7 linked regions of the Homo sapiens genome follow. The protein of the gene in region 6 interacts with the protein of the main gene of each other region in a pairwise test. Each region holds a gene or a part of one and is shown on either strand. Other genes may lie near its edges.

The links.
Region 1: the proteins of ANKS1A (region 6) and TRIT1 interact in a two-hybrid assay, tested with the Homo sapiens proteins (one large-scale study listed by BioGRID and IntAct).
Region 2: the proteins of ANKS1A (region 6) and RORB interact in a two-hybrid assay, tested with the Homo sapiens proteins (one large-scale study listed by BioGRID).
Region 3: the proteins of ANKS1A (region 6) and NEDD9 interact in a two-hybrid assay, tested with the Homo sapiens proteins (one large-scale study listed by BioGRID).
Region 4: the proteins of ANKS1A (region 6) and ARHGAP10 interact in a two-hybrid assay, tested with the Homo sapiens proteins (one large-scale study listed by BioGRID and IntAct).
Region 5: the proteins of ANKS1A (region 6) and KRT83 interact in a two-hybrid assay, tested with the Homo sapiens proteins (one large-scale study listed by BioGRID).
Region 7: the proteins of ANKS1A (region 6) and PRDM6 interact in a two-hybrid assay, tested with the Homo sapiens proteins (one large-scale study listed by BioGRID).

The regions. Positions count from the first base shown.
Region 1 is NC_000001.11:39,845,505-39,849,004, forward strand, and holds part of TRIT1 (tRNA dimethylallyltransferase isoform 1 precursor), read right to left. Parts: intron 2,594-3,500; coding exon 2,482-2,593; intron 2,244-2,481; exon of another isoform or gene 2,157-2,243; coding exon 2,044-2,156; intron 1,794-2,043; coding exon 1,716-1,793; intron 1-1,715. UniProt on the Homo sapiens protein: Catalyzes the transfer of a dimethylallyl group onto the adenine at position 37 of both cytosolic and mitochondrial tRNAs, leading to the formation of N6-(dimethylallyl)adenosine (i6A37).
Region 2 is NC_000009.12:74,691,506-74,693,677, reverse strand, and holds the end of RORB (nuclear receptor ROR-beta), read right to left. Parts: 3' UTR 501-2,172; downstream 1-500. UniProt on the Homo sapiens protein: Nuclear receptor that binds DNA as a monomer to ROR response elements (RORE) containing a single core motif half-site 5'-AGGTCA-3' preceded by a short A-T-rich sequence.
Region 3 is NC_000006.12:11,212,169-11,215,668, reverse strand, and holds part of NEDD9 (enhancer of filamentation 1), read left to right. Parts: intron 1-1,941; coding exon 1,942-2,388; intron 2,389-3,500. UniProt on the Homo sapiens protein: Scaffolding protein which plays a central coordinating role for tyrosine-kinase-based signaling related to cell adhesion. As a focal adhesion protein, plays a role in embryonic fibroblast migration.
Region 4 is NC_000004.12:148,067,588-148,071,087, reverse strand, and holds part of ARHGAP10 (rho GTPase-activating protein 10), read right to left. Parts: intron 1-3,500. UniProt on the Homo sapiens protein: GTPase-activating protein that catalyzes the conversion of active GTP-bound Rho GTPases to their inactive GDP-bound form, thus suppressing various Rho GTPase-mediated cellular processes. Also converts Cdc42 to an inactive GDP-bound state.
Region 5 is NC_000012.12:52,313,801-52,316,099, forward strand, and holds the end of KRT83 (keratin, type II cuticular Hb3), read right to left. Parts: coding exon 2,093-2,299; intron 1,544-2,092; coding exon 1,512-1,543; intron 1,019-1,511; coding exon 831-1,018; 3' UTR 501-830; downstream 1-500.
Region 6 is NC_000006.12:34,895,755-34,899,254, forward strand, and holds part of ANKS1A (ankyrin repeat and SAM domain-containing protein 1A), read left to right. Parts: intron 1-3,500. UniProt on the Homo sapiens protein: Regulator of different signaling pathways. Regulates EPHA8 receptor tyrosine kinase signaling to control cell migration and neurite retraction.
Region 7 is NC_000005.10:123,095,741-123,099,240, reverse strand, and holds part of PRDM6 (putative histone-lysine N-methyltransferase PRDM6), read right to left. Parts: intron 15-3,500; exon of another isoform or gene 1-14. UniProt on the Homo sapiens protein: Putative histone methyltransferase that acts as a transcriptional repressor of smooth muscle gene expression.

The sequences.
Region 1 (3,500 bases), on a different chromosome or scaffold from region 6:
TTGTGCCAACCCCAAATAAGATTCTTCATAAACTGGACTGGGCTGCACCTGCTACCACAGGAAAGGTGAGACTAGGAGGGTGCAGGCAGCATCCACAGCACACCTGGCCTTGGCTAAGCTCTGCACCTGTTTCCAGGCCACTCTACATTTTCCTTTCTCCTCTAAGCCCTTTGTTGGGCTTCTGTGCCCTGTCTAAGCACCTTTCAACAAGTTCTCGGCTCCCAGCTGCTATTTCTGGCTTGGGTCCAAGGCCATGCTGGGGTGGGGAAGTCCCCCTGGCTTCCTGCCAGAACCATATCCCAGCAGACCAGCCCTGGCCAATCACGCACAGCTCCTGATTTACAGGGCAGCTGTGCCTTTCACTCCAGCACCAGGACGATGCCGGCATACACACGAATGAGGAACAGGCATATGACACACTGTGCCATCAACTCCTCCTACCACAGAGATGGAGGAATTATTGTGGTTTTACTACAGGAAGAAGTTCTAAATTATTACCCAAAAGTCTTCTGTTAAAGGCTTATTGTCAGACATGGGGATAAGAGAAGCTGCATTAGAAATTTGTAATACAGCACTGAGCTTCAACTTCAGATGACACTAAGACTTCTATCTACCAGGACATGCAGAGAAAACAGGATAAGTAGAGGAAAGCACAACAAGCCTCTTCACACCAGAACTCCACTGGAGAGCTCAGGCAGAGAGTGGGAGCTGGGAGAAAGAATGTTAGCAGTTTAGTGGTCAACAGCAGGGATCAAGGTATGTATTTTCAGAGGCACCGAGTGGGGCAGAGGCTTCAGCTGGCCCTGTCTGTAATTGAGAGCAGAAGTCTACCAGCAAAAGGTAAACACAAGATGATTCAGAAGCATATTTAAAACATGTCCACAAGATAAAACTGAAGTTTCACTTATGCTTAAATTAATCTCCTTTAGCTCATAACCACATAGTTTTTACCCATGGTCCAATACTAATGCTGTCTTGCTAAAGTTACAGCTAAAGGAAGTAAGAGTAGTATAAAGGAGTGTGGACTCTGTGTCAGGCCTGCATTCAGTTATCTACTGCCGACTAGCTGGGTGATTTTTGGCAAGTTATTTAACTTCACTAGGCCTTCATTTTCTTATCTGTAAAAATAAAAGAATAACACCTACCTTGAAGACTCAATAATATATGTATAACACCAAATTTAGTGCCAAAGACACAGTACAGGGCCAAATCAATGAGAATTTCCTTTCTTTTCCCTCAAAAATGCTGTTCAACTAAAGTTTCATTTGAAGCAATCTGAAGCACCATGTGGAGACGCTGGGAGAAATGGTGAAGGTGTCTTTTTATACAACTCATCTGGCCCCCCAAAAACACTGTAATTAGGAAATCTTCCCTACAGAAATCTGACTGCTCTTCAGGTACAAAACTGAAGCTAAAAATCAGCCCTGAACACCAACTCTCCAAAAAAGATGCTGCTGTTCTTCTTAGCTGTTTGCAGCCAGTATCCATCTGTTCAAGGCAGAAGGCAGACTCCTCAATGCAAATAATTTTTTTTTTTTTTGTGACATCCCAAGAAAATATCCCTGGATAATCATTTATGTTATAGAACTTCCCTTAGGTCAGATCCAAAATCTTAGAACAGGCCCAGAATCTAAAATTCATTTTCTGGGTGAGCTGAGGACATCTATATTCTATTGAAAACAGACCCATAGGATAAAGAAAAACATGAGACTTACTGCTCAAAAAACGGTTTTTAACCCATCGGTTTTGTTTCCGGGCATATCTCTTAGTTACTTGTTTCAGAGCCTCAATACCTGAAAGATACAGTAGATTTAAGAACATCTAGGTAAGCACTCCTTACCCTGCAGAGAGGCAGGCCCTCCCAGCCCAGCAGGAAAAAGTCAGCCACGGCAGTGCAATGTCAGACTTGGTGGACAAAAATCTCAGTTCTGAGCTGAAGGCTATTTGGGACGCTTTAAGCCTTGGCTCTTTCTCAGACCATACCAGCAGAGTACCCTGCCACCCAAAGATGTCCAAGACTAGATTAGATGGAAGAATTCACACCTTTCTTTAGAAGCTGGTTACTAGTCTCCAGTGTGCATTTTCCCTCAGTGATCAGGTACTCGTGAAATTCCTTGAAGCCAATTGATTGGAAGATACCATGTTGATAGTCCTGGCTGGGAACAGGAGGGTATCAGCAGATAAGCCATTGCTCCTAAAAGCTAGCAGGGGCTTTGGAGATGGACCTAGTTGAGCCATTTCATCTGTCAGATAAGGAAATTGAGATCCTGAGCAGTTACTGATTCTCTGAAATTTTCCCCTCCCCTACCCACCAGGTTACTTTCTTGAAAAGTTAACTCCTGGGACTGTCTGAAAGATTAAAAAACTGCATCTGCAAAGAAGGCTGATAAACAAGTAGACCCAAAGCCAGTATTAGCGTTATGGTCTTTTGATTGTCTGCAAAATATGGACAGTAGGTCAGAATAACAGCCAAATCCTCACCTATTTTCCGAAACATTCTTCTGATTATAGCGTCTGTGAAAATCTCTTAGTTCCTCCAAGAGCCCAGCAGCAAGCATGTCATCCACCCTCTTATCCAAGCGCTCATCTAGAACTTGAATCAAATTAGCCCATCAACCAGCAAGCAAGTTGTAGGTACCTACTATATACTTACATGACGAGTGAACAGGTGGTCACAAAAAAAGAGAATTTGTCCAAACGGAAGAAAGAATTCAGATTCCAAAGATTATTATAATAATTCATACGTTACTCACATTTAAGACTTTGCAACTCCAAATAAAAATGAAGCATAGTCAGAATGAAGCACATGCCTCCTCATTATATAGAGAAAGCATACAATTACAGCAACTGTGAAGGACAAATATTTTATTCTCATATGGAATGTGTTTTAGAGGTGGCTGAGGATCCCCTGGTTTACCTTTCTTATTTTTAATTTAATATGTCATTATACTGCAACTTAGTGTTACTTTATGTTTAAGAACCCCTAGATGACACCTTGGATAAGAACATGGAACTTTAATCCAAAGACATCCTAGATACGGCCGGGCAAGGTGGCTCACGCCTGTAATCCCAGCACTTTGGGAGGCCGAGGTGGGTGGATCACGAGGTCAAGAGTTCGAGACCAGCCTGACCAACACAGTGAAATCTGTCTCTACCAAAAGTACAAAAATTAGCTGGGCGTAGTGGCGCGCGCCTGTAATCCCAGCTACTTGGGAGGCTGGGGCAGGAGAATCGCTTGAACCCGGGAGGCAGAGGTTGCAGTGAGCCGAGATCGCACCACTGCATTCCAGCCTGGGCAACAGGGCGAGACTCTGTCTCAAACAAAAAAAAAAGACATCCTAGATACATTCTAAACTACTGAGCCAAGCAAAGGAGCAAAGAGTGAGAGGTCGTAATTGTTCAGATGTGACAAACAGCTTTACTATGAATCAGATACCATTATTTTATGCTGCCTGTAGAGTAAAAGTTTTTGTTTATAAAATTTCATTATTGAAAAATTA
Region 2 (2,172 bases), on a different chromosome or scaffold from region 6:
GAGCAGCTTGATACAAAACAAAAAAAATCAGACACAGAGACTTAATCATTAATTATCTGAAAGCTTTCATCAGATGTAGGGATTGTCATATCCATTTCAAACCTGCTGCACGTTATTTCAACAAAATGGTTGCAGGGGAGTTGCTTATGGCTCTGTTAGCTGGGGCTTCCTTTTATTAAAGTGCTGAGAAAAAGAGAGCTATTATCTTTGAGAGATGCTGCTCTCATTTTAATTGTAACTTGGTAAGCTATTTGGCTAGAATGGACTCAGTCTTTTCTCAATGAATATTTCTAACTCAGGCCAGGTCCCTGAGGACACAAGAATTTCCTGAAAAAAAAAAAAAAATTAACCATTACTTACTAGAAAAAGGAAAACTCTGTAGGTAAGAACCCATGGGGTAATGTTTTCAAAGCTAAATCTTATCTTTTCTACCCATTCCCTGTTCCCAGGGATGAGAGTGGGGGTTGGGGTGGGGAGGAAAGAAAACCATTAGGCAGTCCTTTTTTCTTTTTCTTCTTTTAATTTTGTTCAGCATTAAAGGAGGAAACTTCATAAACATTGATTGTCATTTACAGAAAACATTCAGAAATCATGTGTGCATTATCCGGGAATGCTAACAGTATTGAACTAATAATTTACAGGACATAAAATAAGGACAAAAACCTATTACATTCTAAAGTAATATAAAACTCTTTTTTAATTGTTAGGGAGTGCTGTTTTATTCTAGTATATTTATGATTAAAAAAACTCAATACTTACTTCCTAAATGACTCAGGCTGCAGTTTTACTCACATACACAGAAATTAGGGCTTATATATTAAACAAGGAGAGAGAGATCAGAAAATTGTAGATTTTAAAACTATATATGTCACTGGGTTTATTTGTGGTTTGCCTTTTTCCTCTACAGGCCAATAAGAATACATGGTAATAATGTAATTAAACTCCAGAAAAATCAATGGTGACTATAAGAGACATTATTCTTTTAAAAAAGTAGAATTATTATTCTTTTTAGAGTGAATATTTTTATTTTACATACTTGTGGCAATGCAACTTTTATGCATTGCCAACAGTGGTGTGCATGCTAATGAGATGCAAACTGTACCCCTCCCATGCTGCCCCCCAGGCGCAGTAGGTTAGTGGGCACAGCCAAGCCCCAGGCAGCCCACGGTTTCACGGGACTTAGAATCACTCTTCACTTTACAAGCGTAGGCTGGAGCTAAGGTAAAAACATTAAATCTCTGAATGTTGGAAGTATATGAAAATCATTTCTCTCAATCCTAAAAGCAAGGAAGCATTGTTAGGGATTTCAAAAATATTGGAATGTCTCATTTAAATCTAAATATCTTTTTATCATTATAAATCGATCATCATAAAATACTAGCCTTTTAAAGTCATATTTGGGATGCAGGAAAAGCATCAGTTTCAACAACTTGCTCCTGCCTGTGTTGCTATAGCTCATGACACCTTGGATTTTCCTCCCTCTCAGTCTCTCCCCAACCCTCCCCTAGGTTCTTTACAACATTTATTTGGTGAAGGTCAGTTATGGCTTCAGCAAATGAGTGGTCTGACCTCAGGTTATTAACAAGAAATAAATGTGTACAAAAATATCTTGTTCATCAGAAAGCGGAGTTTGTTTTCCTTAAGCTATTCCATGCAGAAAGGATTTGGACAAAGCCATTTGCTACAAGGAAAGATGACTTAACTCAGGCAACTTTTTTTTTTAATTTTCCTTTTTCGTATTTTCTAGTTATAGATGGAGTTTGCAGGTCTTAGGCCAATCTTCAATACAAATTCTTTGGAGCAGATTTAATTGACAGCCCTGTCCCTTTCTCAGTCATATTACAAAAAGAAGCATACACTTAACACCAATGACCCGTCAAGATGCTTAAACTGTTACAACCAGTTTCCATTAAAAAACTGAGAAGTACATAACACGCAGAAAGGAAGCAAGTACATATTTGCTCTTTGTTGATTTTCCCCCTCTAAAAAAATTGTTACAAAGTCTTATGCTTAAACAGAGACATAGAAAAATCAGTGTACTCACCGTCTCCAGTTATTTACAGCAAAAATTACAGAGACAGCATACATTGTATTAGACCTTCCACAAGCATATATTAAAAGTAATTACATTTGAAAAAATATTTTTATTTTTCCTCTACATTTCTACAATAC
Region 3 (3,500 bases), about 24 Mb from region 6:
GGTCAGCTATCTCCTCACTTAATAATCTCAGTACAGCTCTGGTGGAGTCATTTCCTGGAGGTCATTTTAGTAAAAGGACCAGAATCTTGTCCTCTGTAACTCTATGACTTCTCTTGTAAAATACAGAATACCCAAAAGATGGGAGAAGAGAAACAGAGACAATTTTAGGATTATGACACCATCCTTAAATGGTTCCATGAACAGGGGAAACTGCTGCCTGATTTTTTCTTTATGTATGTGAACTTTTCATTGTTAGATGAAACCCAGCGCCTCCTGGAATATTAACTACCCAGTGAAACCTTCCCCTGAAATATGCACTCCTCAGTTTCCCTTTAGCTTCCCTGGCCGCTCACCTCTCTGTGTCTCACACTTCCTGGATCTCATAACTGTCAAGAAAAAGGACTTCAACCTTATTCTTGAAGAGTATCACAAAGCTTCCTGAGGACTGTCCTCTATGGCTTTATCTCTTTTAATTGCCCTGGCTAAGAGGAACCTGGCTCACAGCAGCAGAACTGGACCCGTCCCAACTACTGAATAGAGGGCAGATCCCTTCCATTGCACAGCCCTCCAGAGCGGAAAACACACAGGACCCGTGGCAATGGGGCTAGCACAAGGGGACGCGAGTAGTGCAAGTCAGCTGCAAAGAAATGAAAAGCACGAGGCTGAATGATCAAGTCCACGTTGCTAGAGAAGAAAATAGACAGCAAAAGCTCAGACAATGACAGCCGAAAATCCCACGAATATGTCATGGTATAAAATAAAGTCATGAACCTGCCCCATCCAATCCGTAATCCTTTCTTCCATAAATGAGCCCCACCTCAATGACATTAAGTGCATCCAAACATCTTAACAAAGCATTAGAGTTCACTTTTAGTGTTCCGAGGGCTTGTGCTGAATCAACAACGTCCCCGACTTCGCTGTGCTCTGGGAAGGGGGCAGACATGCGGGAATGGCTGCCCGCGTGCTGGGAAACTTTACTAATGCCAAGAAATGAAATCTTCCGAGCCTTTGAAAGGCCTCCAAGAATGTCAGCACGTACTGCCTGCCCACTCTCTGCTGAATGCCTACTTTGGCTGTCTGCTTAGTACTGAATGTGCCAGACAGGCCTTCATACAAAGACGGAGAGTGTGTTGGGCCCATGAAAGGGGAAGGCACAGCTTTTCTGATGTGAATGGTGAGATTCAAGAAGTAGGTGACGAAAGGGGAGGGCGAGGAGGGGCCCTCAGGAAAGGTATGCATAAAAGACCGAGAGAGAAGAGTTGGCATCCACCTATGTGTTAATAAATTTGTTGTCAAAGCTGGAGATGTATATGGCTGCTGGCCTATGCTCCACGCTTGATGGCATGTCTACATGCCTTGCTTGTGGATTCTCTCTGGATCCAAGGCTCCTGTCATCTGAGAACAAGAATTTCTAAGCCCTGCCAAGGCATATATATGTGTACTTCTATTGGCTTTTCAACTCCAAATATAAATGCTATTTGTACTGTGTGTTATTTGGGATTTTTCTTTTACTCTTTTCACCTCCAATATAGAACAATATTGAGAAATGTTCATTGTCGAACATCTGAATATCTCGGGATTTTTTTTTCCTTAAGCTCACTTTGAAAAAGGAAGAAAAATGTTTTGTATAGTGAACCATGCTCTAACTCTGTAACACTGCTACTCATAATTCCTTGGCACGGCATATCCTGCTAGAGGAAAGAACTCTTCTGGTGTTTTGAGCTTTTCCAAGGAGGCAGTCTGATGTCACTGGTGGCAGATGCAGTGTATATGTATCTGTCTTTTGTCTGCACCATCTGTTTTTCTCCTTACAGTCTATTGTTCAGATTTATGCTTCTCTCTTTCCAGGAAGTGTGCCTTTCCATAAGAGCACGGGCCTTAGGTGATAAAGGGACCGACCCAATATTCTAACACGGTTTCCTTCTCTTCCTTCCCTCCTAGAATCTTATGGCAAGGGCCTTATATGACAATGTCCCAGAGTGTGCCGAGGAACTGGCCTTTCGCAAGGGAGACATCCTGACCGTCATAGAGCAGAACACAGGGGGACTGGAAGGATGGTGGCTGTGCTCATTACACGGTCGGCAAGGCATTGTCCCAGGCAACCGGGTGAAGCTTCTGATTGGTCCCATGCAGGAGACTGCCTCCAGTCACGAGCAGCCTGCCTCTGGACTGATGCAGCAGACCTTTGGCCAACAGAAGCTCTATCAAGTGCCAAACCCACAGGCTGCTCCCCGAGACACCATCTACCAAGTGCCACCTTCCTACCAAAATCAGGGAATTTACCAAGTCCCCACTGGCCACGGCACCCAAGAACAAGAGGTATATCAGGTGCCACCATCAGTGCAGAGAAGCATTGGGGGAACCAGTGGGCCCCACGTGGGTAAAAAGGTGAGTAAATGACTAACTAAATTTTTGTTCCTACTTATTTTTTTTTCCCATTACACTTGGAGCATTTGGAAATGTTCCCAAATTAATAACTTGAAGCTGCCAAGAAGTAGATATAACCAATACCTTAGCTCAGGCATCATGTTTGCATGATTTTGCCATTCATCCATCATTCAGCAAAACTTCTTTGAACTACCATGTGCTGAGTACAGTTGATTTCCAGCCCTCCTAAGTTCCTGTGTCATCCTGGGTTACATGGGTTATTAAACTGTTTCTCTCCATCTTTCTCATATATCAGCTTCTAAGCCTTCACTCTGTGCTCAGATCGTTTCCTATCTTTTCTGTTTCTTCATTGAGTGGAACAAACACCAAATCTCGTACAAGCCTGATGATGCAACAAGGATCCTCCCTTGGCCAAAAGCTGAATCATGACCTCAGTGGCCTGGCTGGACAAGGAACCCACCCAAAGTAGCGAGAGTGAGGAAGCTGGGAGTATGTCATGCTGACCAACTCGTTCTATAGAGTTATCAGCTTAGTTTGACTCATTTAAAAATGCACAGATACTAGTGGAATTGGAATGAAGCCATCCTCCTGTCCTTCAAGTCATTCTTATAATAATGCCTGAGGCAGTGGGTGAAAACAGTGGAGCTTGGATATTTAGGAAGGAATTAATTTAAAAATACAGTGTGGGGAGCTCTGCAACACCCTGTGTAATCCCAAATACTTTAGCAATTTGAGGTCAATAGAAATTCACTAATTGAACAATGAATGTTGAGCATCTAATATATTTTTGATGCTTGTGATACAGTGATTAATTAAAGATAAACAAAGCCCTGGTGATGCTTACATTGCCGTGGGGGAGACAGAAGCAACCAAGAGAATGCTAGGTAGGGACACGTGTTATCAGGAAAATAATGTCAGTGGACTGATCGGGGGTAACACCCACAACCAAGGTGATGCTTATGTGAGCATCACAAAGGAGGGATTTTCTCTTTCATTTGCTGGCAAATTCCAATGGGTCCTACAAGGTTTGGTATTAGGAATGAACAAATTTAACTGGATAAGAAGATATCCCTGAATTACAAGAGGAAAGATGCAATTACATACCAGAAAGA
Region 4 (3,500 bases), on a different chromosome or scaffold from region 6:
CTCAGAGTCTCGTCTGACTCCCACACTGTATGGGAAACTCCTGAAGGCAGCCTGAGCCTTATACATCTGGGCATGGTGCCTGGCACAATGGACTGTTCATAAATATTCACGTGATACTCAACGAGAAAATTGCAGCCTGGACAGCAAAGGGCACAGGTCCAAGCACTCCTCACCAGTGTTCGGAAATGCAATACAGAAGCATTTCATAACCCCCAGCTGTGAGCAGGCCCCAGCTCAAACCCCCAACCATGGTCAGGTGCAGGCGTGGCAGCCGTGGCATAAAGGAAAGGGGAGGCATGAGCTACTCCAGCGGACCAACTCGAAAGGTGGCTTCTGATCACAACCCAGGAGAATAATTTCATATCAAAAACCAAGTACAGGCATACACATCCGTAACACACACAAGTTTCATGAAGCAATACTCTTACCCTCACTGCGCGCATGCAATGCCTTCCTTTCTGTATTCTACTCTTTTTTTCCCCATAGATTTGTGTAGAAAAGTATTATTCTTTGAATGCTAATTGCAACTCAGCGAATTGAGTTCATGGTCCTCTAAGGTATAGCTGCCCACAGTTTGGAAGACAGGGACAATCCAATTCTAATTGTCCTTTGCAACAAGGTAACTGTTTGTTCTTCCCTCCCCTGGATGAATAGGAACACATTCCGGCTGTCTGCAGACTAACCGCCTGCACTTTCCTTACATTCAGTAAGCTTCTGGCTTCAACGCCTCCCTGGAGCTGTTCCCTTGGGCCTGAATGCTATTCCCTGCCTTTATGCCTGGACAGCACCTACTCATGCTTCAAAGAGCAGCTTCAGCATCCCCCCACTTCCAGGACTCCTCTCCTGGCTCCAGACCAGGTCGGGGCTCCCAGTTATGCACCCTACATGTTCTGTGTGCGTGTGTGCAGGCATACGTGTATATATAGGAGAGACACACTGAGACATTCTCTTCTAGTCCAGACTATGAGAGCATGTAACACATATAACATGAGACCCAGCACCTAGCACCGTGTCAGACACATGATTATCTGTGTAATGACTGAGTAAGCAAATTCAGAGATGTGCTCTCAAAGCGATCTGGCAGCAAGTTACTTCCTTCATGCCTTCACTGACCTTGACTCTGACATTGTTCTTCATACCAGGATTTTTAGAGACTTCTCACTTCATCCAAACACCCCAGCTGGCAGTGCTACTAGTGTGCAGCCACCATCAGGGAAAAGCTTTGGATTCTATGCAAAACAGGCCCTCAGGGTTGTAACAATGTGGGGGCCTGAGTGGCAAGGGGCCCAGGGCTGAAGTCAGAGCCCTAGAGGAGACTCCTGGCTACCTAGATGCATCTGGGAAATTAACCCCTGGGCCTTGCTCGGCTGTTACCTGCAATACGGGGTTACTAGCACTTAGCTTGCAGGACCTGCTATGAGGAGGCAGTAAGAGAGTCTCAAATATAGTCTCACCTGCACATGCTCACTATTTCTCCTCCTACCCTATACACACCACACACTTGCGCAAGCACAGACTCGGTATTAATAAAAGACAGGATGAACAGAGGAGGAAAAAGGTGATTTTCTACAACGCTGGAGGTGAAAGGAGGCTTGATTGGGGAAACCAAGGCCAGGCCGGGAATCCTGCATCTCCCCAACCAACAAACCAGAGAGACGCCTCCACAACCCCATTCACCACCTCCCCAGCCCTCCCCTCCCTGGAAGGCAGAAGCCAGTAGGGAGAGAGATGTCACTGCTTTACAGAGGCGACCAAGGGGGATCCTGTAACATCCAAGAGCCTTGGAAGTGGACCCAGCTGAGCAGTGGGCGAGGTGGGCTACAAGGGTCTGGAGACCAACAGCAAGGCATCCCCAAGCACAGGAAAAGTGGCTCCGCAGTTGCAGATAAGGCTGGCAGGCTCTCCCTCCCTCTCTGAAGATCTGACCTCTCTCAGTAGCATCGAACCCCAAAATACCCATCTGGGGCTCCTCTCCTAGTTTATCACACCACTCCTCCCCCAAGCAGTGTCTACGCGGACAACAGGGCTCTGCTTTTCCATTCTTATGGGTGGAGAACATGGCAGTCTCAGTGTCTGTCATTTCCCACGCACCCTCCCTATGCCTGCAGGTCTCAGTCCAGGAACCTCACCCTGCTTCAGCCACGGTGTCCTCACAGCCTTTAGACCACAACAGGGAACAAGACGGGTGTGAGGCAGGGACCCCAAGTAGCACCAAAGAGAGGCAGGTCCCTTCCACCAACTCAGTTTTCAGCATAATGTAGACAGTGTATGTGACAAGTACTGAAATCACTGAATTGTCATCATCACACGGTGAGTGCCAGGAACCCACACTCAACTTCAGAACTGCCACAGGACCCACAGGGAGGCTGCGTCCTGGGCTCTGTCCTATCTCCCACCCCGAGGCAACCAGTAGCTTGAATGTTGTGTTTCTCATTATCTTACCATGGCTATGGGTAAAATTCAGTTTTGTCACACAAGCACATATCCCTAATAATATCCTATTTATTTTGCATATGTGTGAGCTTAACCAGAAGCACATAAGTCAGAAGCGCATAGTCATCTGGAACTTATTTTTTCACTCGATATTTTTTTCTCAGATTCCCCTGTGCTAGGAATCTATCTGGCAACCACATCGCTGGGCTGTGGGGTCTATATGTGATCAGCTTTCCAAGATAATGCCAAATTGTTTTCCAGGGATTATTCTGTGTCTATCTGAGACCTTTAAAGTTTAATCGCCAGAGGCTTTTAAGGATTAATTTGGGCCACACCTGCTCCCCCACATCTACATGTGGATGTTGACAAAGAGCCTGGGACAGCCAGGAAAGCAGTCCCGCTGCTGCTGCCGCTGCCACGTGGGGTCGCTCCTGGAAACCACCTGCCTCAGCACCCCTCCCAACCCTGCCCCTGAGGAGGCAACCACTGCCCATCTAACTGGAGCGCACCTGACTGGAAAGACACAGCAGGACTGGCTGGTGGTCACCAGCAAAACCTATTTCCAGGATTCCCCAGGCCCAGAGAAAAGGGAAAGGTCCCTCTGGCCATCACAGGAACGTCACTGCCCTGAGACCTTACAAACACAGCCCTCTCCCGAGGGTGGGGGGCGGGGGAGTTGGGAGGCATAGCCCCAGAGAAACAGCTAGGCATTAGTGAGTCTACTAGAGAAACACATCTTCCGCCTAGAACTGGAACTCATAACTTAAGTCCAGGCCCACCCAGTAAGAGCAAAGAACAAGGACAGTCATGGAGCTACACAATTGCTAAAGACCCCTGTGCCAACCACACTCTGGGTCAGGATATCTCACAGCTGCACACATCCCAAACGCATAACTACTGACGAGGCCGCCCAGGGGTCACTCTGACCTCCAGTTTGTTTTCTCCAAAGGCCACTGGGTGGCATAAACCAATTTCCTTTGTTGCCTGTATGAGGTACAAAAAGGAATTGCACTGCAAGAGCATCTATGGAGGCTGGAAGACTCCAAATGGATAAGTGAACACAGGAA
Region 5 (2,299 bases), on a different chromosome or scaffold from region 6:
AGGATGTGGCAATGGGGTGGGGTCCAGACTGACACAGGGCAGCCCCCAAGGGTGGCTGCTGGCACTTTTGGTGGTTGTTGCTGTGGTACCTACGTGGAAGGATGGCTGGGGGGCAGAGTGAAGATATGCTAGGAAGAGAAAGTGGGGACCGTGTATGCAAGAAGGGGGCAAAACTCAAACACACACACAAGCACGCATACACGTGCACACATATAAACATGCGCATGCACATGCACTGCCTTCCGGCTGACTTCTGGCCTCCTCGGTCCCCTTCAGAGCCATCCAGACTGACAGGTGTGACAGGTAGAAGGTGCTGTGAGCACAGTCAGCACTGCCTGGCCAGGAGATGACAGAACCATCTGGGGACAAGGCCCTACGGGTGTCCAGGCGGAGAACAGGCCAGAACGACTCTAGTCTTCAGGCCATATCATCAGGCTGGGGTGCTCACCACTTGGTGGGTGTGGGGAACCCCAAGAAAGCAAGACATTGCAGCACACAAAGCAGGTCCCCAAGTTTATTGGAAAAGGGGAGACAAGAGGCCAGAGAGGCAGGGGGAACAGTCTCACAGTGCTTCTTCCAGGGAAGCAAGGCCCTTCTCCCCGGGAGGGGCTGAAGGCTGAGACAGGGGAAGGAATGGGTCTATTCCCCAGCCACAGGCCCCTTTCCAGTGGGATGAAAGGTGGGGAGGAGCCGCTGGTGGGAATGAGCCGATGGTGTATTCTCAGAACACAAGGGGAAAAGCCAGCGATGTGCTGCTGTTTTCAGCTGGTGGTGGGGCAGTGGCACGTCTGGCAGGCAGAAGGGGCTCCCCTGGCTCTCTTTTGGGCCACTTAATGCCTCCCCTGGCCGCAGGAGCCCCCTCCACAGGTGGTGTTCAGCTGGCCACAGGGCTTGCACAAACCAGTGCTCACCACCAGGTTCCCGTTGCAGGGGGCACTGCAGACGCTGCCCGTCACCGGCCGGGAGCCCGACACGCAGAGATCCCCGCACACAACCCCACCCCGGGAGCTGCTGACACCTGTGGGAACAAGGGCAGGGTCAAGAGACCCCTGCTGATGGCCATCCCATCCAGCCACCTTCCTTTGGTCTGTCTGATGTGTCGACCATCCAGGGAAGGATGCAAAGAGCCTCCAGTTCTATTCTGAAGGAGGGAACCCTAGCCTGGGAGCCAGCAGACCGGGGTTCTGGTCCTGGTTCTGCTTTGTGACTTTGGGAGTCCTTTCCTCTGTCTGGGCCTCAGCTTTCTCACCTATATAAGGTGAAGGTTATGAATGACATCTGAGGTCCCTTCTTGCAATGACATCTTATTATTTTTTCCCCTCCCCAACACATTCAGGCTGTGAGGTTCTTCCTGCGAGCTAACCTCAGTCTGTCTTGCTGCATGACCAACCTATCCTCTTTACTGGGGGAATTATTGGAAACACTCCTCCCAAAGTCTCTGCATATATTCATAGTCAAGAAGTCCTTTGTCCCCAGTCTACATTTTCCTTTTCAGGGCTCAAGATACTTACAGACATTCACAGCTTCAACACCTTCACACAGCCTGAGTGGGGAAAAAGTAAGGAAGGGGAAGATAAAAGAAGTCAGAATGAGGTCATCGAATTTCCGCTAGGTGCTGAAATGGGTCATCTCAGGGCTATTTCTGACCTACATTTATTCCCTTGTGCAGCTTAGAAAAAGTTGCCTTTCTGGCAGTTGAAGCAACGTCAGGTCACACTATTTAGCAAGTAGAGTATGGTTGGATTTCAATTCTTATTTGTCTCTCAGCTGTTATTTGCCTTTGTGCAGTGAACAACCTGAACAACCATATCTGTCAGGTCTAGATAGGCTCAACTTTCAGAAGGAGAAGGCCCTCTTGGGAAGACGAGGTCAGGGGTGGAGTTTGGCCAGCAACCCTGCCCTAGAATAGGTGATGTCCAAGAAACCAGGCAGGGTATGGATCTTGGAAGAGTTGAGAATGAGACAACTTGAAGATATGGATCTGGGATCCATAGAGGCAAGAATGTCACCTGGGGACTGAGACTGAGATAGGGAAAAATCAAAGGTGGGCAGGTCTATGCAAGTGGAGTGCTTAGGGCTGGGTTGGACCCACCTCTGCTCCTCGCCCTCCAGCAGGCGCCTGTAGGTGGCGATCTCGATATCCAGGCCTAGCTTGGAGTTCATCACCTCCTGGTACTCCCTGATCAGGCAGGCCATGTCTTGCTTGGCCTTCTGCAGGGCGCCCTCCAGCTCGGCCAGCTTGCAGCGGGCATCACTGAGGGCCGCCTCACCCTGCTGCTCAGACTGGGCCACCGCAGCT
Region 6 (3,500 bases):
AAAATAGTTTTTCAAGAATGTCTTTCTTTTTTTTTTTTTTTTTTTTTTTTTCTGAGACAGTGTCTCTCTCTCTCGCCCAGGCTGGAGTGCGATGGCACGATCTCGACTCATTGCAGCCTCCACCTCCCGGGTTCAAGCGATTCTCCTGTCTCAGCCTCCCGAGTAGCTGGGATTACAGGCGCACGTATTTTAGTAGGGACGGGATTTCACTGTGTTGCCCAGGCTGGTCTCGAACTCCTGAGCTCAGGCAGTCTACCCTCAGCCTCCGGAAGTGCTAGGATTACAGGCGTTAGCCACCGTGCCTGGCCTTTTTTTTTTTTCTTTTTTTTTTCAGAGACAGTGTCTCACTCCTTCATCCAGACTGGAGTACAGTGGTGCAATCTCAGCTCACTGCAACCTCTGCCTCTCAGGTTCAAGTAATTCTTGTGCCTCAGCCTCCTGAGTAGCTGTGATTACAGGCATGCACCACTGCACCTGGCGAATATTTGTATTTTAGTAGAGACAGGGGTTTCACTATGTTGGCCAGGCTAGTCTCGAACTCCTGACTTCAAGTGATCTGCCTGCCTCGGCCTCCCAAAGTGCTGGAATTACTACAGGTGTGAGCCCCCACGCCCAGCCAAGAATGTCTTAAAATACTCCCTTTAAGTGTGATTTTGTTGGGAGGGCAGCCCTGTTCCTGCATTTTGGAATTGCTGTACTTACATTTTTGCTTTCTCTAAAGCAGAGTGTGGTTCCCATGTTAAAAAACAAAAGGAAACAAAAAAAGGTAACATGCTTGGAAATGACTTTTGTGGTAGTTACTTTATATGTAAAAATCTAGAAGGTGCCTAATCTTAAACTGAGTAAGGCATTTACTTAGAATTAAAGATAATTTACCCAGCCTGGGCAACATGGCAAGACCTCGTTTCTACAAAAAATAAAAAAACTAGGCCAGGCGCAGTGGCTCACGCCTGTAATCCCGGCACTTTGGGAGGCTGAGGCGGGTGGATCACCTGAGGTCAGGAGTTAGAGACCAGCCTGGCCAATATGGTAAAACCCCATCTCTATTAAAAATACAAAATCAGCTGGGTGTGGTGGCCTGCATCTGTAATCCCAGCTACTTGGGAGGCTGAGGTAGGAGAATTGCTTGAACCTGGGAGGCAGAGGTTGTAGTGAGCCAAGATCGTGCCATTGCACTCCAGCCTGGGCAAAAAAGAGCGAAACTCCATCTCAAAAAAAATAAAAATAAAAAATTAGCTGAGTGTGATGGCATGCACCTGTGGCCCCAGCTACTCAGGAGGCAGAGACGCAAAGGTGGGAGAATTGCTAGAGCCCAGAAGGTGGAAGGTTGAGGCTGCAGTGAAAAGAAAATTTACTACAAAGTTTAAGATTTAAAGTCAGTGGTCTCCCTTTTTCCTGCATCCTCCAATTGAAGTTCAGTTTTTACTTTCTTAGTTGCAAAAATTAGAGACAGGAAACAATGAAACAAGCTTGTGATCTGAAGAATTTGACTTGTATCTAGTAGCTTCAGCATGTTCACGGGTCATAGGAGGTTATGGTCCCAGTGAAAGTTACATTCTTGGCCAGAAAAATCCCTTCAGGAGGTTCTTTTTCCCACATTGGATTGTTCACCCCAAACAGCTGTGAATTCTGGTTTGCAAAAGGAAGTCCAGGCTATTTCTGCCCTAGTCTTTCATAGGGAAAGTAAATTACTGGGTTTTTAGCCCAGAAACACTAAGGAAACCCCAGAAGTAGACAGTGGAGAGTTTGTTCTTAGAAAAATCAGGCTCTCCTGTGGGTAGGAACTTGGTCTCTTTTTTGGAGAGCTCTCAGAAAATATTTCCCACACTGATTTCCAAAGGATTATTGGGAGATTTTCTGTGGTAGAGAAAATTATATCGTATAATATGTTACATTCATAGAACATCTTCACATAACTTTGGTGTGGTTAGAGTTAATGGTAGTAATACTGGAAATTATATGGTATGTCTTCATATTTATCCTTTCTCAGTAATTTGTAGATCAAGTTTGTTTAGTTTACAAATCAAAAAAGAGTTTTTAAAACAAGTCAGTTGTCTCTGCTTTGAAACAAGATAGTTGTATCTGTTTGTGATATTATTACCACTGATCCAGGAAGCAGAACTGCCTCCTGGCCTACTTAAGTGGTGAGGACATACTATGGTGGCTAAGGATCAGGTTCTGACCCAACTCTGCCTTGTGACTTAGGCAAATTAAGTCACTTTTCTGCGCCTCTGTGTCTTCATATATATAATGGGCCTGGGATGGTGCCTATCTTCTAAAGCAGCATTAAATGAGCTAAAGGATGTAAGGCATATAATGCCTGGCACATGGCAAGGGTTTGGTAACCCTCAGCTGCTAGAATCATCTAATGGGAGCCAGGTGCTTGCCACCCTTGATGAATCAGAGTGAGGACCCTGTTAAGGACATATCTTTTATTGATGTTGCCATTTTAACATTTATAATAATTCACAGCAGAAGCTCCCAACCTTTTAAACTATGAAGAGTCCCATAGTTTTAAAAAGCCTGAAAATTGGCAATGGTGGCAAAGTTACAAAGCAATCCAGGTCCACAATCCTTTGTTTGAAACCTTGGGGCCAGATATGTTTTCAGGGTGCTGACTCAATATTGTATATTGAGTCCCTAGTGGGACTGTGGCAGCACCCTGGAAACATTGTATTTCTACAGCAAAACCTGTAAATATTGACTAAATGGGATAAATATGAAGCCGCTTCATATCAGCGTAGGTCAGGTTTTGCAGCTAAATGACTGCTGCTAACTTATGAAAATATATTTTCAGAGCTTTTTGGATTTCTGAATTGTTGATAAGGGACTGTAAACCTCTGCCTTTATGGTAGAAAAATTGCAAGACAAAGAAATGCACTAAGAAGAAAATAAAATCAGTTATAATTTTACCACCTACAGAAATTAACTTGAAATTTTGGTGTACAATCTTGTTTTTTTCTGTGCAAACTTTTTTTTTTAACAGAAATGACATTATTTTGTATATACTTTGTCTCATGTTTTCACGAACTATATTGTGAAAACACTTTCCTATATTTTCTGTCCTCCTCAACCTCATTTTAAATGGATGTGATATCCGTGGTATATATGAATTGTAATTAATTTAACCCCTTTCCTGACATGGAACATGAGTTTGTTTTTCGTTTTTTGCTATTAGAACAGCTCTGTGATGAACATGCATGTGGATAAGTTTGTGTGTACATTCTGCTTATAACATTTGATATATTCAATAGAATGGTAGGTGTAGTTTCAACATTCAGCCATTGCAGAAATCAACAGCTGAATATTCAAATTGCACCTCAAAATCAACAAGAAACATACATGTTGTTGAATTTGAGGACTCATAGTAATTCTGAGGCCCCTTACATCTCCTGGGTCCTTCTGACTGGGAAGTAATATACTGATTTATGGTTGCTAAATACTACTTATATTCAGAAAGTAACCTTTGTGCAAGCCCAGGACTTTTTAATGGTTAACTT
Region 7 (3,500 bases), on a different chromosome or scaffold from region 6:
TGAGGTTTCTATCTGGAGTTTCAGGATGTGTTTATCCTTGTATTGCGAAAAAAAGCCCGTCTCTTGCCCAATCTGCTGTCTCGAAGAGATTCTATACTGGTCGTCTGGGTATTCAGCTTTCCTCTTTTTACAATTACACAGGAGACGATTTAAAATCACCAGACGGGGCGGGGTGGGGGAGACGGCCAGTCTATCGCGGGTGCCATTCGCACTTCCTTCGACCCAGAGACTCGGAGGCTTCCTCGACTGCCTCCCAAACGCCACGGGACGGGGCAGAGCAAGCCTGCAGCCCGGTAGAGCAGGAGCCGCAGCCCCAGGACTCCAAGGGCGCGCCCGAAATGGGGTCCCTCAAGCGACCAGTCAGTTCTCCCTCCAGGCACTGAAGCAGGGCGGGGACAGGTGGGGCGGGGTGGGGGACCGGGGTGCTGTTCTGGAGGGTTTGGTGTGCACGCTCTCCCTAGACGCCGGAAGAAAGGAATAGCAAATTTAACGATCAGCCTAATTGTTAGAGAAGGCACCAACTCCTGCCCCGACGGCTGTTCTCCAGGCTAAATGCGATTCTGTTGTGCTATACAATGGGTGAAGCTGTAGATAAAGCTGTCTCTCTCCGACACTCTCCAAAGCAGCCTGCGCGAGAGGGACCCCCACCCTCCGGGCCGGGCGGTAGTGGGCGCCCAGTATCCCTCCACTCGAACTGGGCTGGAAGGAGGCAGGCGGCCACGGGAAATAGAGCCTGTGGCGACTGCGCTGTCGGATCGCAGCGCCCTCCGGGTTATTAATGGGCCTGGAGGAGCCGCCGTGTCTGCGCCTCAGCGCGGATGGCCTGCCCCGAGAAGGTGGCCTCGGCGCCCGCCGGCGCGACCCAGCCTCCTTGGCCCAGCTTCCCTGAGGAGCCACGGCGACCCCGCGCAAGTGTCAGGCTTATGGCACTGAGCCTGACACCTGGCGAGTCCCGCCTGGCAGACACGGTGAAAGCTGGCCACTGATGGATGCGCCAGAGCGGGGCGGCGGGTGGCCCTCGGGGCACCCGGGTACCTGCCGCCGCCAGCCTTGGCCGCAGCCAGGCCTGTTGGATCACCCTGGATGTGCCCTATCTGCGCTGAAATGACCGAAATGCCCAAGAAACTTGTGAGTCTGTATGAAACGTTTGTGTCAGGAACAGCTAATCGCAACCCAGCATGGTAAGGGAGCCCTCGATTTGCCATTTGCTTCACAGCAAAGGAGGGCTGACTATGTAAGCCTCCTGTCTCACTGGAGGGGGCTCTAGCCAGCCAAACCTTTGCCTCAGTCAGCAGCTACTCCTCTACTCCTCCCAAGAGAGCTGGAAGAATGAGGGCTGCAAGCTTCTCAGAAATGTCCCCAGACCTCTGAAGTGAAAAGCAACAACTTGTTTCGGAAAGCAGAGAAGTGTCCATGCCGCTGGGCCTCCCTTGCACAAAGGCCCTCTTCTGTCCTTCCTCTGCCAGCAACACAAACTATTGTTAAAATTCTCCCAGACTCTGCTTTTGACCCCAGGGCCTGGATGGGAGTATTCTCACACTTATCCATATGTCAACTCCTCTGAAACACACACACTTCACACACCCTCTCAAGCTTATTGATTGTGAAAATAAAAACTTCAAGACATTTTGGGAATTACATGAAAGACAATAAACACAATTACAGTGCATACCATGTGTCAGACACCTGTCTAGAACCAAAAACCAGCATATTATCTAAGTATCATGATTCCCATTCTGCAGATAAAGCAATTCCCAAGCACTACTACTCCACCAAGAACCAGAAGCTAGAAAGTGGCAGAGAAAGGATTCACAGTCAAGGCTGCCTGACTGCAAGGCCTCTAAACCCAGAGATTTTTAAAAGACTAATGAAAGCTGGGGAAATTTAACATTCAAACTCATGACTCAATTGAATTGAAATATTTCACTGAAGTAACTTTGGGGGCCATGAAAATTGCTGTAGCATGATTGAGTTATAGAGGTTTCTCTCTTTCCCACACTCTTGTGTTTTCGGACATTAAAGTAAGAGATTGGATAGGAAAATACATAGATAATGTCTATAATTTTGAATGTTACTGTCTGACTTCAGAGACAGCCTTTCAGCACCTTTGCAAAAATAGCTAAAAGCAAATGACAATAAGCAAAGGCAATATGCCCATGGAAATAGAAATAAGTCACTCCAGGGAGTTACTTAACTGATTTTTTTTTCTGCTTGACTCAATGATGCAAATGGTCAGAAGAGTGTTTAGTTTTCATTCCCTAGCAGCCTGTGCCAGAGACAGTCAACTTCCAACATGCTTCTCCACACGTGTCATCCCATCAACGACATCAGCATAGGTACCAACTCCAGCCACTACCTCCATAGACAAAAAGCACACTTCTAATATTTGTAATGCATGATAATAAAACTGTGGCTAAGGCCTTTCTCCAAGAAGTCCTCTAAAGCCGTCTTCAACTTATTGTTTCATTTGTCTCCATAAAGAGTTGAAAAACTTAATAGTAGCATTATGCTACTATTAAAAGTGAAAAACTGAGGCTCTCCCAATATCTAGAAGACTATCTGTGTGTTAGGTCCACAGCAGGCTAGACAAAGTCAATCAACTTTAATTAGTCCACCCAACAGGGGTCTTCTTAATTTGTGAACCACTTCATGCTATATCAAAATATTCTGCCAGAAAAGTTGACCAACTGCCATCAAGATACATGTTATATTCCAATGTTATTTTTTAATACACAAAATCCCCCAGCTGAAACATTTGGGTTCTAACTTATGTCTGAGTCTCAGGGTAGCTTGAGGATATTAAAAACAAGTAACATTTCTTGGGATTGACAAATATGCTTAAGAAGACAAACATTCTAGCAGAGTATAAACACCTACATGAAAAGGTTTGAAAGAGAAGCAGGCTATATGAGAGGACCAAACTATGTATAAATGTATATAATATATGTCATTATATTATATATACACACACAGAGCATTCCAAGCCAAGCAATACATAATACAACTACTTAGGTTCCTAACAAGGAAGCAAGTAAATGTTCATACTTTCTCTTAAAATCAGGGGAAGAGTTTTTGTACAAGTTCATAATTGTTATTCATAAATACTCTTCTATCTTGAGTAAATCTGTCAATGCTCCTGTCTAAGCGTCTCTGAGTAAAGGAAGGTGCTGTCATTAGGTTACAGACTTGTTCGCCTCCTGGCATCAGAAGGCCAGGCCAAGTGCAGTTAAGAGCAGACTTTCACTCTTCATTTCCTATCCTTCTGTGTTGTTTCAATGTCTTTAAAGTGCAATAGATCTTTACAATATATCTATTTTAAGGTAAAGGCGGCAAAGCAGGCCATGGTTTTCTTTTCTGGAATTTCATTTCTCGTTCTAGGAAAGGTGAAATATAAAACGCTTCCGGGCTTTTGGTGTGTGGAGAGGCCAACAGTCATGTGTAGGCGCGTGGGGAGTGAGAGCTACATCACATCTTCACTCCCCAGTACCTGCCCGACGCCT